Homo sapiens: one gene and its partners. The protein of the gene in region 2 interacts with the protein of the main gene of each other region in a biochemical or structural test. Each region holds a gene or a part of one and is shown on either strand. Other genes may lie near its edges. The genes, in order: PLK3, VRK1 and COIL.

Region 1 (3,239 bases), on a different chromosome or scaffold from region 2:
AGCCCCGGCCTCGCGCCGGGGCTCCATGCTGGGCCTGGCCGCGTCCTTCTCCCGCCGCAACTCGCTGGTCGGGCCAGGCGCGGGTCCTGGGGGTCAGCGGCCATCCCTGGGCCCGGTGCCCCCTCTGGGCTCAAGGGTCAGCTTCTCAGGGTTGCCCCTGGCGCCCGCCCGTTGGGTGGCGCCCTCCTACCGCACGGAGCCAGTGCCCGGGGAGCGCTGGGAGGCTGCGCGTGCACAGCGTGCCCTGGAGGCGGCGCTGGCCGCAGGGCTGCACGACGCGTGCTACTCCAGCGACGAGGCCGCGCGGCTGGTGCGGGAGCTCTGCGAGCAGGTGCACGTTCGCCTGCGCGAGCTCAGCCCGCCACGCTACAAGCTGGTATGCAGTGTGGTGCTGGGGCCGCGCGCGGGCCAGGGCGTTCACGTGGTCAGCCGTGCGCTCTGGGACGTGGCGCGCGATGGGCTGGCCTCGGTCTCCTACACCAACACCTCGCTCTTCGCGGTGGCCACGGTCCACGGGCTCTACTGCGAGTGAGGGGGAGTCCAATTCTGCAAAATTGTTTATTATCCTAGGAGGAGGCCCCCCTGGGGCTCACATCCCAATAAATAAGTGTCTGACAATAAATAAAAGTGGTCCATAAATAACGCCCCCTAGCTGGGAGCTAAGGCTCAGGCTTATCTTGGAGATGGGGTAGGAGCCAGCGAAGACAAGCCGCCCCCAACTCCAGTAAAGCTGGTCCCTGATTCCCTGGGGGATTCGGCCCAAAGCCCCCAGTGAGGCACCAAAGGAAGGGGGAAGGCCACAAAGGCAAGGGCCAGAGCCTGACAGGCACAGGCCTCAGGCCTCAGGGCTTGGGTCCTAGGCTGGGCTGCGGTCCCGGAGCAGGCGCAGAGCATAGCGGAGTCGCTGCCGCAGGTCTGGAGAGCAGCCCAGCTGCCGAAGGTGGGAAGCGAGGTAAGTACAAGCACTACGATTTCGGGCCACAAAAGTCACAAGGAGGGGCTCCCAGCCACTGAGAATCAGCTTGGTGTGGTCCCCGTAGAAGTTCACCTGCACACAGAGCATGACAGTGGTCAGGACCTAGGCTCCGGGCCCAGCTTCCTCCCCAGCACCCTGGGCCTCCCAGACCTTCCCGCAACTCCTGGATAGGCTCTTACCTGGACAGTGCCATCACTAAACAGCATGAGGAGAGCCTGATCCGTCTTGACCCACTGCAGCAGCAAGGGCGGAGCAGGTACCTCTACCTCTTCCACACTGGGCAGATCTCCACCCTGGGAGCAGGATCAGGGCAGGTCACTGATCCAGCGTGAGACAGCCCCCTCCCCATTAGTGTATGCCTTATCCTCTAGCTTTCAGCAACCCCAACCACCACCAAGGGGGAATCAGAGGGATCAGGATGGGTTAGTTTTCTTTTCTTTATTTTTTTTTTTTGAGATGGAGTCTCGCTCTGTTGCCCAGGCTGGAGTGCAATGGTGCGCCATCTCTGCTCACTGCAAGCTCCGCCTCCTGGGTTCGCCCATTCTCCTGCCTCAGCCTCCCGAGTAGCTGGGACTACAGGCGCCCGCCACCACGCCCGGCTAATTTGTTGTATTTTTAGTAGAGACGGGGTTTCACCTTGTTAGCCAGGATGGTCTCGATCTCCTGACCTCATAATCCACCCGCCTCGGCCTCCCAAAGTGCTGGGATTACAGGCGTGAGCCACCGCACCCGGCCAGGATGGGTTAGGTTTCAATGTACCACAGCCCCAGCCCTCACACCTTCATGAGGTGCTGCTCCATGTAGGAGGCGAAGTACCGCAGGATACCCAGCTGAGGCTGCAGGGCCCGGGGCACAGCACCCACGGAGAAGGAGAAGTGCTTTGTGCTGGTGGGATTGTAGTGCACAGTCCTAGAATGGGGAGGCAGAGGTCAGAGGGAGCCCTGCACCAATGCCCCTCCTCTGAGAAACCCAGACCCCTGAGCCCAGGAGCACTCACGAGGGTGCGGCCCTGCTGGATTAGTGGCCTGAATACAAGGCACCCCATAACAGCACTTACTTTCTGTTGGCCGACAGGGCCATATGTGTGCCATCGTTGAAGAGCACAGCCACACGGCGGCTGGACAGTTGATACCCAAAGCCGAACTTATTGGAGTAGTCAACCCACTTGCTGACCCACACCAGAGGCTCTGGCTGGGCCAGGGGGGCCGGGTTCTGTTCCGCTGTCATGGGAGAGGAGGGAGTCAGCACCTGCTCCTGGCCTCCCAGCCACAGAACTCCCACCACAGCAGCATGTACCAGACCCCACCCTTACCTGGGGGCATGAAGGCTATACAATTTCTCAGAGCACAAAGGGCTGACTCCACTACTGTGGCCACAGTCAGACCTTCTTCAAATCCTGAAGGAGACAGGGCACTGAGATTTAGGAATTAGCACCCCAGGACCCAGGCCAGGCCCCTCTGCCCACTCCTTCCCTCTCGCCCCTGATCTCAGCTCCAGCAACCTCTATCACCTCTCATCCTCCCTGGCTCCTCACCATCTCCACTGCTTGCCAGTGTCCCACGGGGTGAGCTGTCTTCAGGTGCTGTCTCTACCAGGCTGACAGGGGCTGGGCCAGAAGCTGCTGGAGCCTGGAGGGTTGGGCAGGGAAAGGGAGTGACACAGGCCCCAAAATCCAAACCCTTGAGTCCATGGCCTGGCCCTGCCCTGGCTCCCAGGGCACCCCAGGTCAGCCCCGCCAGGCTGGTGACACACAGCCAATTAGGCCACCACGAGGCTGGATGCTTCAGCAGCCTCTTTTATCCCCGGCTTCCCTCAGCTGCTAGGGTGGGGGTGAGTCAGGGGAACAGTGTCCACCTGAGCGCCTCACCTCTGGCCTGGCATCCTGATGGCCAACGGATGTGCGCATGAGGCCGCTCACCAAACCGGAGACCTCATCCCTCTCCTGGGCATGATTCTTACCTGGGGGTGAAAGGTGATACCGTCCTCAGTATCCTGCCCAGCCCCTCCACTTCCGACAGGGATGACACAGAGATTGGCCTCCCCAAGTGCCTGTACTGCACATGCTCTCCCCAGGAGTTTCCAGGCACCCACACTCACACACCCAAGACAAATGTGACAAGCCGCTCTACTGCTCTGCCCCCTCAACCCACTGACACCCCAGACTCACTCTTCTTCTTTCTGCCAAAGAGGCTCTTGGTAACTTTGGCAAACAGACTCCTAGCTGGGTTGGGGGGTGTCAGGTCTGGGACTGTCACGCAGCTGC
Region 2 (7,125 bases):
CTTTTAACTTGCTGAGCTCTTTCCAGTAAATTAAGCTGTTCTTAACCCAGATGGAACAGGAAGGAATTCTTTAAGAATGGGACCACATGTCATTGATCTCCGTAGCCCTAGAGACCTAGCCTAGATCAGGTACATAAACTAGACTTTTTATGTAATTGTTGAATGTTAATTTATGAGTATACACTGAATCCAATAACTGTTGCACTGTACTGCCAGATTCTAAAAACTGAAAATGTTTAGTTCTAATCAACAATAAAAATATTTGACTTTGTACTTTTTAAGGGCAGATGTATACTTGATCTCTCTGTTCTCCTTCAGCCTTATGTCATCCCAAAATTCTATGCTTTAAATAAAGCTCCTTGATTATTAAGCAGAAAACATTTCCAAGTGGGTAAATTCATGTTTCACTCTAGTTTCCAAATATACTGCACCATAATCAAGCATGGCTGCAAAAACATAGACAAGAAACCTTGCTTCATTCCACTGTTCATCAATTCCTGTAGGTTTTTACCAAAAAGAATATTTCTTAGGAACCTAAATACAAACATATATTAAACTGATTAAACCTACCCCTTTCCAAAAGAGATCTGAGTCTGATATATACACAGAAAATATACTTCACACTTTCAAAAATTATGACAAACGAAAAGAGAGGAAACAAATGTACTAATTATTAAAATTAACAGTTTCTAGAACTAAGCATCATATTTAGTTTTGAGCCTCCTGACATCCAGAGCAAAAAAAGACATCTGGGTTATAGATCTTGCTGAAAAACAGAGGCAGCAAGCTAGTTTCTCAAAGGAGAAAGCTTTTCATTGCAGGGAGCCCCCAACTTCTCATCCAGCAGAGCTCTGCTTTTATCTGTTTTCAGTGACAGCATTTACAAATTATATGAAGAAAATGTTCTGCAGTTTAAAAGAAAAGCTTGAAAAAAAACTGGTCTGGTCCAGTTCTTTCACTTTACAAAAAAAAAAAAAGCTAACAAAATTAATAACTCACTTCAGTTACATGGCTATCAAGCAGCTCATGATCTTACCTAACCTTAACTTTTATTAATTTCTTTTTAATACAAAGAATAACCCTGTGTCAGCAATGAGTGTACAAAAAGTAGTAAACTAATGAAATAAATCTCCTAATAGTTCAACTTGTTCAACTTAGTATTCATTTTTTTCCCCTAAATGAAGCTTTATACATGTCAGGGATGATCCAACAGGAAATTTCCAGCCTTCTGAACTATCCAAGGACACCACAGAATTATAAGGTCACAGATGTTAGCTCTGCAGCAGACTGACCTACTCAGCTGTAAAGTCAGCCAACCTGCAGAAACTACATTTTCTCCAGCATGTAAGTCCAAACAACAAAGGGATTTGCAAAGGAAGGTAGGGGCGGGGACAGGGGGATGGGGGTTGGGCGGAGGGAGGTGGTTGCTCTGGACAAGTTCTCACATAGCAGCAGAGATCTTTACTTCTCAATCACCAAAATTTTAGAGAAAAACACTATACAAGCTACCTATAAATATTAACGCAGAGAAATCTATCCTGAGCAATAAGAAACATGCTGCTTGTTTATGCATGTATGCAAAGAGTAAGTTTACTATAATACCTTACTAAAAAATTCCACTCAGGCTTCCATTTTACCCTCTTCATTTCAAACAGATACAGTTTTCAGCACACTTGTTGACCACAAAACTGGAGCAGATGCAATTAAGATAAAACTTATCAAAGAAAAAAAAGTATATGTAGATGCATGTATATAATTTCAGATTCTATGATGAAATTACAGAGACCTGCTATTTGGCAAAGTTAAATTTTTGGTCCAATTTCAAAATTCCTATCTCCTTTGTTAATTGAAAAGATAAAAACTTTTCAATGTGCTGCGTCTGATTTTAAAGAGAGAAAAATTTGTTTTAACGCTTTTTCTCAGTTTGGAATACGAGATTTCCAAATAAATCTATTAGAATTTGCAAAGTTAATGACAGTAAAAATGGTTAATAATGTAAAAAAAATTTTTCTTCTAAAAGTTGTTTTCCTTCCTCATATAAAAATAGCTAACACATTGTATTAAATAATTTCAGATTATAAGGGAAATCAGTAAGTTTATCAGTAAGTTAATTATCAAAAATAATCAATAGCAAATCAGTAAGTTAATGCATACCTGTAAAATCTAAAGTGATGCCAGAAGTTCTTTACATGCTTGTATAATACTTCTACCATAAAGTTCATTATTTAACATTTCTCTCCAAACAATTAATCCCCTTATATGCTGATATATAGCTTTATATAATATTTCTTCACAGAGCAAAATAATGTTCAAATGGTAAAATGCACCACACCAACAAACAAGGAAATTTTCAAATGGTAATTTTTCAAATGCCCGTTTTCAACTGGTAAATACTCTGACCATATCCACAAATAAGAAACAACCAAGACAAGATGAACCCTAAGTGGTGACTTGGGAGAAAAGAACATATAAATTATGAATTCAGTGCACCATCAAAATTTCCCTGTCAGATATCAGTATTCCAAGTTAAAATCAGTTCAGGAATTTAGTAACTTGCTACTAAACATAAGAAATATATAAATATTTATTTTTCTACAACCCTCTACACATTTTCTGTATTACAAAAAATGTTTGCCTTAATTGCCATGCAATCTGTTATTGTTCTTCATTGAACTACTGCTATACTTTCTTTTAGTATTTATTGCAATTATAAACACAAGAAGACCAAAGAATAATTTAATAACAAAATTCACCTTTGTTATTGTTTTTGCTTTCAAACCTCCATTCTCCACAACACTGAGGTCCAATTTGCCATCATCCTTACTTCCTATAGCTTTTAGTCCTTGCAAAAGAATGTCACGTAAATTTTCATAAAGAGGTTTTTCAGTGTAGTCTAGTAATTTCACTGTTTCCATGTATTTGGCAATTTCACCTAAAAGAATAACACAATCATTTTATAACTTTCAATATATTTCTCTCTAACCTCTAAAAAAAATAATTCATGGTTATAGTAAAGTTAGAATGCAAATACACATCTTGTTAAGATACCTATTTTTTTCAATCACTTCAATGAAAAGTATGCTTTTGAACTCAGGAATTGTCAGATAACTGAAATTTAAAAAGTATTTTGAGATACAATGTAAAACACACTTTTTGTAATTGTGAGAAACAAGACAACTTAAAATGTAAATACTCATAAAAATAACTATTATAGTATTAAAGTTATAAAAAAATACAAAGGGATCTAGAATAAAGATTAGAAAGTAAAATGTCCTTAAATACAATGAATATCATAGCCAATATGTTTTTGCCATCAAAGCCATTAGCTCTATAGCAGATAGCTATATTCTTCGTGTAAATGAGAAATAAAACACACCAAAAAGAGGCCAAAGAAAGAAGAAAGAAATAAGATCTGGCTTTCCTATAAAAGAGAAAAATCAGCTTCCAAATGATAAAAGTGTACTGTACACTTAGACAGAACCACACCATAAAAAAGAAATCCTACTAGTCAAGATCAACACTTCTCAATATTAAAAATTCATTTTTGAGCTAATGACTCACACACAGACCTTTCCCCCGACCTCCAGACTTGTATATCCATCATTTCATATACTGGTCCTTGGATGTGTAAATATCACCATTAATTCCAACAAACCCACGTCTAAACTCTTGACCTATCCCTAAAACTTGAGGTTTTCTCTGTCTCAGTTACTGAGATTTTCATCCTTCTAGCTCCTCAAGCCAAAATCTGAGTTAGTCACCCTTGAATCATTTCTTCTCACACCAGTCCTTCAAGAGATCTTATCAGTTCTACACACACACACACAAGCGTGTGCATATATACACACATTCATTAACTCAAATATTTATTAAGCACCTCCTATGTGCCAGGCACTATTCCTAAATACTTGGAATATACCAAGAAAAAAACGGACAACAATCCCTAACTTCCAATTTCTTCATCTGATAAAGGAGATGTACAAAAAACCTAAAACAAATATCACCATGTATGATAAAACATTGAAAATGCTCCCCTGGGAGAGAAAAATGTCCACTTTTGCCATATCCCTTCAGTATAACAGAATAGTTATGTGTACTTTTAGCTAGTACGATAGGAAAATAAATAGAAGGCATAAAGAGTGGAACAGAAGATGTAAACCAGTCTTTATTCACAAACAACATAATACTACATGTGGAAAATCCTACAGAATCTACAAAGAACTACTAGAACTAGTAGATACATTTAACAAGGTCGTAAAATGCAAGGTAAATATATAAAAATCTATCTTATTTCTATATACCAGCAAAAAGCAATTGGAAAATAAACTATCAAAAAATACCTAAAATAGCATTAAATACTTTGCAACAAATACAATGAAAGATGAGCAAGAGTTTCCTAGAGAAGACTATAAAACACAGTTGAGAGAAATTAAGACAGACCAAATTTAATAAAATATATACCATATAAGTGGACTGGAAGACTCAACAGTATAAAGATGTCAGTGCTCCCCAAATTGGTCTACAGAGTCAAATTCAATCCCAAGGTTCCAGCAAACTTGGAGGTGGGTGAGTGTGTGTGTAACTGACAAGGTGATTCTAAAATTTAAATAGAAATGCAAAGGGCAAAGAATAGCAAAGTAGCAAAGTCCAGTTAAAGAAAAGCAGTGCCAAAGAATTTCAACTACCAGATATCAAGCTTTAAATAAAGCTACAGTAACTAAGACAGTGTGGTCCAAGAACAGGCAAAAAGGACAATTGAAAAAAGAGAGTCCAGAAACAGGTGCACAGATCCACACATCCACACTTGACTGATGACAAACATGACAACAAAGGGAAAGAATGGTCTTTTCAAGAAAGGCTGCTGGGTCAATTAGATATAAATATGGGGATAGGAAAGATACATGACCCCTCCTCAAATAATACCCAAAAACCAACTGCAGGTAGACTATACATCTGTATGCATAATTGGCAAGCTGCAACTGCCAAAAATTGGAGACGACCTAAGAGCAGAATAAATACATAATGGTATGTAACTACAATAGAATATCATATAGAAATGACAATGAGGAAACTACTGTTAAACATACAATAATAGGGCCAAGGGCAGTGGCTGATGCCTACAATCCCAACACTTTGGGAGGCTGAGGTAGGAGGACTGCTTGAGCCCAGGAGTTCAAGACTAGCCTGGGCAATATAGTGAGACCACATGTCCACAAAAAAAAATTTTTAATTAGCCAGGTGTGGTGGCGTGTGCCTGTAGTCCCAGCTACTTCAGAGACTGAGGTGGGAAGATCTCTTGAGCTCAGGAGGTCAAGGCTTTGAGCTCAGGAGGTCAAGGCTGCAGTGAGCTGTGACTGTGCCACTGCACTCTAGCCTGGGCAACAGAGTGAGACCCTGTCTCAAAAAAACAAAACAACAACAATAACAAAAAAAAACATGCGATAATGGGGATGAATTTCACAAATACATTACTAAGTGAAAGAAAAGGACACTAACAGAAGTAAACAATAATTTCAAGAGGACAGGAATTGTTACATATTTCATTCACTGTATTAACTCCATTTCTATAAATTTTAAACACAAATATTTGGTGTTGGAAATTAAGGTAAGTGACTCATTCGGCCAGGAGGGAGAGGCTACTGATTGCTATGAGGTCCATGGGATAATTCTGAGAAACCCACATTGTATTTATTGATATGGGGAGTAGGTTGCAATTTTAAATAGCATAAGGTCAGGATAGACCTCCCTGAAAAGGAGACAACTGAGCAAAGGCTTAGAAAGACTTCTGAATATATCCAGACTGACCAATTCTCACTCTTTGGCTGCTACTTCTCTTGCATGGGTTACTGCAGTGGCCTCTTAACCTGCTTTCTGCCTAGGCCCATCCTTGCTCCTTCAGCAGTCCATCCCCATGCCAGAAGCAGGAGACCCTTCCCCTCAGGATAAGCAGTTCATGTCACTCTTCTACTACAAACCTCACACTCTTCCTTGAAGTAAAAGCCAAAGCCCTCATGTTTACCTATGAAGACACAGTCCTCGCATCTCCTGGGCACTAGTGTCCCTTCTGCCTAGAACTCTCTTCCCCAGACTTCTACACAGCTCACTCCCTCCCTCACCTCCTTCCTACAACTGCTCAAATGTCACCTTCCAAGTGAGGCTGTCCCTGGACAGCCTACTTAAAATTACAGTCCTCCTCACTACTTTACTACCCACCCCATCCCCATCCCCCTAATTCTATTCCCTGTTTTCTTCTAGTTCCACAGTACTAACCAGGGGGAACATATAAATTTTGCTCATGTGTTTACTGTCTAAAATCCTCCAACTACAATGCTAGCTTCATGAGGGCAGGGATATTTGTTTTGTTCACTGATGTACCCCCAGTCCCTGGCACACAATAAAGCCTCAATATTTACTAACTTAATGTATGAATGAAATTTGCTTCCTTTGCTAAAAGCACTGAATAATAATTGAATGAGGCTCAAGTATTCATTTAACAAACCATCTAACATATTTTTTTTTCTGAGACGGAGTCTCACTCTGTCACCCAGGCTGGTGTGCAGTGGCACAATCTCGGCTCACTGCAACCTCCGCCTCCCGGGTTCAAGCGATTCTCCTGCCTCAGCCTTCCAAGTAGCTGGGACCACAGGCGTGCGTCACCACGCCTGGCTAATTTTTTGTACTTTTAGTAGAGATGAGGCTTCACCATGTTAGCCAGGATGGTCTTGATCTCCTGACCTCGTGATCCACCCACCTCAGCCTCCCAAAGTGCTGGGATTACAGGTGTGAGCCACCATGCCTGGCCACCACCTAACATCTTACATTAAGGGCTATTCCATGGATATCATGCCTTTTTATCCCCAGAAAACAAAATCCCTATTAACACTGAAGAAGTCATTTCCTACCTGGTTTGTTTTTCTCAGGAAAACATTTGTCCATCAAACTTGCAATATTTTCTCTGTATCTGTTAAAAATTAAAGAATGAGTCACTGAAGCTTGATGTCATATGTTAATATGAAATAAAAATATATAGCACATTAAGCTATATTGTGCTACATCCTAAATATGCTTACAGACATTTTTCTAAAATAAACAAAAGACCAAGGAACCTTACTGTTTAACAAGTAC
Region 3 (6,995 bases), on a different chromosome or scaffold from region 2:
GCAGTTTGGGAGGCCAAGGCAGGCGGATCACTTGAGGTCAGGAGTTCAAGACCAGCCTGGCCAACATGGTGAAACCCCGTCTCTACTAAAGATACAAAAAATTAGCCAGGCGTGGTGGCACCTGCCAGGAGATTGAGATCAGTCTGGAAGACATAGTCCAACACTATCTCTACAAAAAAATTAAAAATTAATGGACATGGTAGTCCTAGCTACTTGAAAAGCTGAACTGGGAGGGTCACTTGAGCCCAGGAGTCTGAGGCTACAGTGAGCTATGATCACACCACTGCTCTGCACTGTGGGCGCAATCTGTCTCTAAAAGAAAACAAGGGCCAGGCGCGGTGGCTTAAGCCCATAATCCCAGCACTTTGGGAGGCCGGGTGGATCACTTGGGGTCAAGAGTTCCAGACCAGCCTGGCCAACATGGTGAAACCCTATATCTACTAAAAATGCAAAAATTAACCTGGCATGGTGGTGTACACCTATGAAACCCTGTATCTACTAAAAATGCAAAAACTAGTCTAGCGTGGTGGTGCGCACCTATAGTCCCAGCTACTCGGGAGGCTGAGGCAGGAGAACTGCTTGAACCTGGGAGGCAGAGGTTGCAGTTAGCCAAGATCACGCCACTGCACTCCAGACTGGGCAACAGAGTGAGACTCCCTCTCAATAAAAAAAGAAAAGAAGAAAAGAAAAAAGACTGTATGGTGTTGGTGGAGGGAAAGACATATAGATCAATGAAACAGAACAGAGAATCCAGAAATAGATGTACACAAATATGCCCAACTGATTTCTGACAAACATTCAAAAGATTCAAAATGGAGGACATATAGTGTTATTAACAAATAGTACTGGAGCAATTGGACATCAAGAGGCAAGCAAACAAACAAAAATGAACGCTGATATAACTCTTACACAAAAATTAACTCAGGCTATGGCTCACACGAGTAATTCCACTGCTTTGGGAGGCTGAGCTGGGAGGATTGCTTGAGCCCAGAAAGTAGGGGCTGCAGTGAGCTATGATCTTGCCACTGCACTCCAGCCTGGACAACAGAACAAAAAACAAACAGGCTGGGCACAGAGGCTCCCGCCTGTAATCCCAGCTCTTTGGGAGGCCGAGGTGGGCAGATCACCGGAGGTCAGGAGTTCAAGACCAGCCTGACTAACATGGTAAAACCCTATCTCTACTAAAAATACAAAAATTAGCCAGGCGTGGTGGCGGGTGCCTGTAGTCCCCAGCTACTCGGGCAGCTGAGGCAGGAGAATCACTTGAACCTGGGAGGCAGAGGTAGCAGTGAAGAAAAAATTGATCGACCAGACTTCATCACAATTTAGAACTTTTGGTCTGTGATAGGCCCTATTAAGAGAATGATTAAAAAAAAAAAAAAGCTCCAGAGTCAAAGAAAATAATCCGCAATCCACATATCTGACAAAGTACTGTTACTGGTGGAGGGTGTTCTTGGCATCTTGAACAGAGAATTGGACAAAACGCACAAACAAAGCAAGGAAAGAATGAAGCAACAAAAACAGAGATTTACTGAAAATGAAAGTACGCTCCACAGGGTGGGAGCAGGCCCGAGCATAGGGGCTCAAGGGCCCTGTTACAGAATTTTTGGGGGCTTAAATACCCTCCAGAGGTTTCCACTGGTTTCTTGGTGTATGTCCTATGTAAATGGAGAGGATGAGGTAAAGTTAGAAAGTCATTTACTCCTCGTATGCCCTATGTAAATGAAGAGGATATTTCCTGTCACAGCTGAAGTGTGAATTGGCCTTATGTTCCCTGCCTCCAGATCCTATTTTCCTGCCTCAGTACTACTATCTAGAATACATAAAGAACTCTCAAAATTTAACAATCTAATAAGAGTAGATGTAAAAGACTTGAAGAGAATTTCACTGAAGAAGCACATAAACACAGGAAAAATGTTCAACATTATTAGCCATTAGAAAATACAAATTAAAACCACAAGAGGCTGGGCATGGTGGCTCATGCCTGTAATCCCAATATTTGGGAGGCTGAGGTGGGAGGATAGCTTGAGCCCAAGAGTTTGAGACCAGTCTGGGCAATGTGGCAAAACTCCGTCTCTACAAAGATTACAAAATTTAGCAGGGCATGGCAGTGCATGCCTGTAGTCCCAGCCACTCAGGAGGCTGAAGTGGGAGGTTCATTTGAGCTTCAGAGGTGAAGGCTGCAGTAAGCCTTGTGATCACGCCACTGCACTTCAGCACTGGAGACATAATGAGACCCAGCCTCAAAACAAACAAACAAATAAATAAAACCACAACATACCACAACACATCTACCAGAATGACTAAAAAATAGTGACAATGCCAAATGGTAGTCAGGATGTGGAGAAACTGGGATTACAGGGGTGAGCCACTGCGCCCAGCCGGAAATGCCCAAAAGTTATCCTGTATGGTGTAAAAGGGGAGTAACCCTCAGTTCTGAGGGAAATCCCTGCCCCTTTCCTAGGGATACAGAAAACTCATGAATAATCCATCCTTTGTTTAGCATACAGTCAAGAAGTAACTATAAGTATACTTGACTGAGTATACTTATAGTATGGGCTCGCTGCTCTGTCTATGGAGTAGTCATTCTTTTATTCCTTTAATTCTCTAATAAACTTGATTTTAGTCGGAGGTGGTGGCTCATGCCTGTAATCCCACCACTTTGGGAGGCCAAGGCAGGCAGATTGCTGGAATTCAGGAATTCGAGACCAGCCTGGCCACCATGGAAAAACCCTATCTCTACAAAAAATACAAAAATTAGCTGGGCTTGGTGGCTCACACCTGTGGTTCCAGCTACTAGGAAGGCTGAGGTGGGAAGTCACTTGAACCCGGGAGGCAGAGTGCACCACGGCACTCCAGCCTAGGTGACAGAGCAAGACTCTAAAAAAAGAAAATCCAAAAACCCTTACTTTCAGTTAAAAAATTTTGTTTTCAATTCATCTACTGACTCCCTGGTATCTACAACTTAACTAGTCTAGTGAACTTGGGGAAGTTACTCCTTTTTTTTTTTTTAAGACAGAATCTTGCTCTATTGCCCAGGCTGGAGTGCAGTGGCACGATCCTGACTCACTGCAACCTCCACCTCTTGGGTTCAAGCGATTCTACTGCTTCAGTCTCCCGAGTAGCTGGAATTATAGGCACATGCCACCACACCCGGCTAATCTTTATATTTTTAGTAGAGTTGGGGTTTCACCATTTTGGCCAGGGTGGTCTCAGACTCCTGGTCTCAAGTGATCCGCCCACCTTGGCCTCTCAAAGTGCTGGGATTACAGGCGTCAGCCACTGCTCCTGGCCTCTAGTTACTTCTTAAACTCTCTGAACCTTGTTTTTTTTAAATCCTCTAAATAAGGATAACAGTTCATAATTCCTAACTTTTGTTATGAAAATTAAAGGAGTTAATATATATTATGTGGAGAAATGTAAATTCTAGTTCAAAAAATAGAAGAAATAATGTAAATACTGATTTATTTATCTGGTGAGAAATGCAAGGACATTTTTGTTTGGTGGTGGGTATTAAAAGGCTAAGGTATTTATATTCCACTGGATACATTTGGAAGAATGATTAACAGTGTTATTTCAAAATTTCAACATTGAGAACACACTAGGACTTACATCTTTTTCAACTCATCATGATGAAAAATTTTGTCAGCGAAATGTGTTAGGATTGTTTTATAAAAATCTTTCACGTCGATGAGCAAATATCTTAGAAGACTACTGCTGAGGAGAAATGTTATTTATCCAGAGAGTTGCCTTAATTAGGAGACCCTACATAGCGCCCAGTAGAAATGTAATAAAGGCATTTCACTTATTCCCTTCCTCAGCCCTGCCGTGAACAAAATTGAATGAAATCAACCACGCTCCGAGTTCTCGCCTAGACGCAGCCTGTAGTAGCCAGGTTTCACCACTAGGTGGCACACGCCAAAGGCTCCGGCGGGGGCGAGCCGCCCGAGCACGCCTCTCGGTGGCCCCGTGGTATCTCTCGGCTTCCGTTGAGCACCAAGCAAGATGGCAGCTTCCGAGACGGTTAGGCTACGGCTTCAATTTGATTACCCGCCGCCAGCTACCCCGCACTGTACGGCCTTCTGGCTTCTGGTCGACTTGAACAGATGCCGAGTCGTCACAGATCTCATTAGTCTCATCCGCCAGCGCTTCGGCTTCAGTTCTGGGGCCTTCCTAGGCCTCTACCTGGAGGGGGGGCTCTTGCCCCCCGCCGAGAGCGCGCGCCTTGTGAGAGACAACGACTGCCTCAGGTGCGCGGCGCAGGGAGCGGGACGGCCGGGTGGGCGGCGGGCGGGGGACGCGCCTGCGCACGCCCGGGCCTGAAGCCGCTAGACCTGGTAGTGGAGGGGATGGGGGATGGGGAAGGGGACGAGGGTTGGAGGGGGGTGGGGCTGTAAAAATGCACGTTCGCGAACCCCGGAGATCCTGATTGGTGTAGTCAACTTTGGGGCTCAGGAATCTGCATTTTATTATTATTTTTTATTATTATTTTTTTTTTTTTGAGACGGAGTCCTGCTTTGTCACCCAGGCTGGAGTACAGTGGCGCGATCTCGGTTCACTGCAACCTCCACCTCCCGGGTTCAAGCAATTTTCCTGCCTCAGCCTCCCGAGTAGCTGGGACTACAGGCGTCCGCCACCACGCCCGGCTAATTTTTGTATTTTTAGTAGAGATGGGGTTTCACCATATTGGTCAAGGTGGTCTCGAACTCCTGACCTCAGTTGATCCGCTTGCATCGGCCTCTCAAAGTGCTGGGATTGCAGGCGTGCACCACCGCATCCTGCCCCTATTATTTTTATTTTTGAGACTGAGTCTCATTCTGTCACCCAGGCTGGAGTGCAGTGGCGCGATCTCAGCTCACTGCAGCCTCCACCTCCCGGGTTCAATCGATCCTCCCACCTCAGCCTCCCGAGTAGCTGGGCTTACAGGCGGGCGCCACCATGCCCGGCTAATTTTTTGTTTGTTTGTTTGTATTTTTAGTAGAGACGGGGTTTCACCGTGTTGGCCAGGCTGGTCTTGAACTCCTGACGTTAAGTGATCCTCCCGGCTTCCCAAAGTGCTGGGATTACAGGCGTGAGCCTCCGCGCCTGGCTGGAATCTGCAGTGTAACGAGCATCCTTCCCGGGATGCTTCTGATGACAGGAGAATCAAACTTGGAAAATCCCTGATGCCTAAGGGCAGGGCCAGGCTTTCTTTCAGCCTTGATTTAGCACATCCGCGCTTAGCTAGGCACTGTGCGACTCTGTTGCGTGCCCATGGTGCAGATGTGCCGGAGACCCGGCCTTACCCATGGCGGCCTTCAGGGTCAGGTGCAGGAAGCTGACAAAGGGGAATCGTTGTGTTTTCTTCATAACCTGCTGTTGTCCAGCCTTAGTTCTCATGTGCCCAGTGTCCCCTGAGACTTCTGGTGGCGTATCATTTTGTGTCTCACCCAGACATTTTGGGATTCTCTCAAATAAGTGTCTTGAGTCCTTTTGGGCTGTAAATTGGGAAACACAAAATAATCTTAAATATGCTTTTGGAAGTTAAAAAAATGATAATGAGATGAGTATCCAGGAGCAATTGTAGTGTGAATTGCTGAAATGTGGTTGAGTTGCCACAGTAAGATGATGGTATCTGATCATTCCAGTTTGGATTCATATCTTGGACTGATTTATTCAGACTTTTTTTTTTCTTTTTTAAATAAAGAGACTGGGTTTCCCATGCCCAGGCTGGAGTGCAGTGGTACGATCATAGCTTGCTGTAACCTTGACTTCCTGGGCACAGGCAATCCTCCCACCTCAGCCTCCCGAGTAGTTGGGACTTCAGGCCAGGCAACCACGCCTGGCTAATTTTTGTATTTGTTGTAGAGACAGGGTTTCGCCATGTTGCCCAGGCTGGTCTCGAATCCCTGGGCTCAAGCTGTCCTCTCACCTCAGCCCCCCAAAGCACTGGGATTACAGGCGTAAGCCACTGTGCCAGCCTTCCTTCCCCCACCCCCTTTAAGCTTCAGCTACAGTGAATTAATTCCAGAGTTGTGAACCAGGCTATTTTCTCTTGCTGCCCTTTGTCGTTGAATATTCCTTACCCTCAAGCATGTCAGATTCCGTAAGATTTCTTCAGAACATCAGGGAATTTAATTTGGAACAGTAACTGCATCTTTAAATCAGGATATTATGATTTATTGAATAATGTTCAACTGTTTCAAATGACAATTTGAAATAATCCAAATTTCAAAGAGTTTTTTTTCCCCCTTTTTATTGACTGTGAAATAGGTCTCTATTCTCTCTGCAATTCAAGGATTATTTAAATGTTACAATTCTAAGGATTGTGTCCCATCCTATTAAGTTTACTTTCTGAACTGTCTCTTGCCTAATGAGTTAATAACTTGTGCTAACTATAATTATACTTTAATGAATCATGTGGGCATTACATTCTTCATAATGAAGTTAACAATGACAAAAACAAACCATGAAAACTGTTATAAGTAATAATTACAACACGATGACAGGCAAATCTTTCCTAAATGCTTCAAATGCACAGCTGCATGTGGCAAAAAATACCTCTCTAGTGGCTTCAGTGGCAAATGGGCAGACCGTAGAAAAAGATGAATCTGGAAAGTTCGTCTTTGTTTTTGTTGTTTTATGTCCACAATCATTGTTTTTCCCTGGCAAATTCACTTTTCTTCAGAGCTACGGAAGAACACATAGTCTCTATTCTCAAAGTACCCAATATTGTTGGACTGGGACCCAAATAATGAGTCTCATGCTTTTGTATATTACCTTCTGTGATACAGACAATTAGACTGAATAGTTAGACCAAGTTATATGGTAAGTGCAGAAGCTGGTTGAGAAAAGGGAGATCAGCATGGAACAAAATGGTTAGGGAATTGAGCAGTACCTTGAAGAATGGGTGGGAAATGTTGGATGATCAAAGCACAGTTATAGAGACAAAAGCTGGCTGGACTTGGTAAAAAGATGAGTCTGACCAGCCAAAGCATTCTGTTGGGATCATTGGC

The links.
Region 1: the proteins of VRK1 (region 2) and PLK3 form a complex in vitro, tested with the Homo sapiens proteins (one study listed by IntAct).
Region 3: of the proteins of VRK1 (region 2) and COIL, one has a biochemical effect on the other in vitro, tested with the Homo sapiens proteins (2 studies listed by BioGRID and IntAct, with this or other methods).

The regions. Positions count from the first base shown.
Region 1 is NC_000001.11:44,803,296-44,806,534, reverse strand, and holds the end of PLK3 (serine/threonine-protein kinase PLK3), read right to left. Parts: coding exon 3,144-3,239; intron 2,936-3,143; coding exon 2,844-2,935; intron 2,605-2,843; coding exon 2,511-2,604; intron 2,373-2,510; coding exon 2,289-2,372; intron 2,197-2,288; coding exon 2,034-2,196; intron 1,886-2,033; coding exon 1,756-1,885; intron 1,270-1,755; coding exon 1,156-1,269; intron 1,049-1,155; coding exon 857-1,048; 3' UTR 545-856; downstream 1-544. Other genes in the region: DYNLT4 (dynein light chain Tctex-type 4), read left to right, coding at 1-532. UniProt on the Homo sapiens protein: Serine/threonine-protein kinase involved in cell cycle regulation, response to stress and Golgi disassembly. Polo-like kinases act by binding and phosphorylating proteins that are already phosphorylated on a specific motif recognized by the POLO box domains.
Region 2 is NC_000014.9:96,856,364-96,863,488, reverse strand, and holds part of VRK1 (serine/threonine-protein kinase VRK1), read right to left. Parts: intron 6,962-7,125; coding exon 6,903-6,961; intron 2,933-6,902; coding exon 2,754-2,932; intron 1-2,753. UniProt on the Homo sapiens protein: Serine/threonine kinase involved in the regulation of key cellular processes including the cell cycle, nuclear condensation, transcription regulation, and DNA damage response.
Region 3 is NC_000017.11:56,958,030-56,965,024, reverse strand, and holds the start of COIL (coilin), read left to right. Parts: upstream 1-3,974; 5' UTR 3,975-4,005; coding exon 4,006-4,250; intron 4,251-6,995. UniProt on the Homo sapiens protein: Component of nuclear coiled bodies, also known as Cajal bodies or CBs, which are involved in the modification and assembly of nucleoplasmic snRNPs.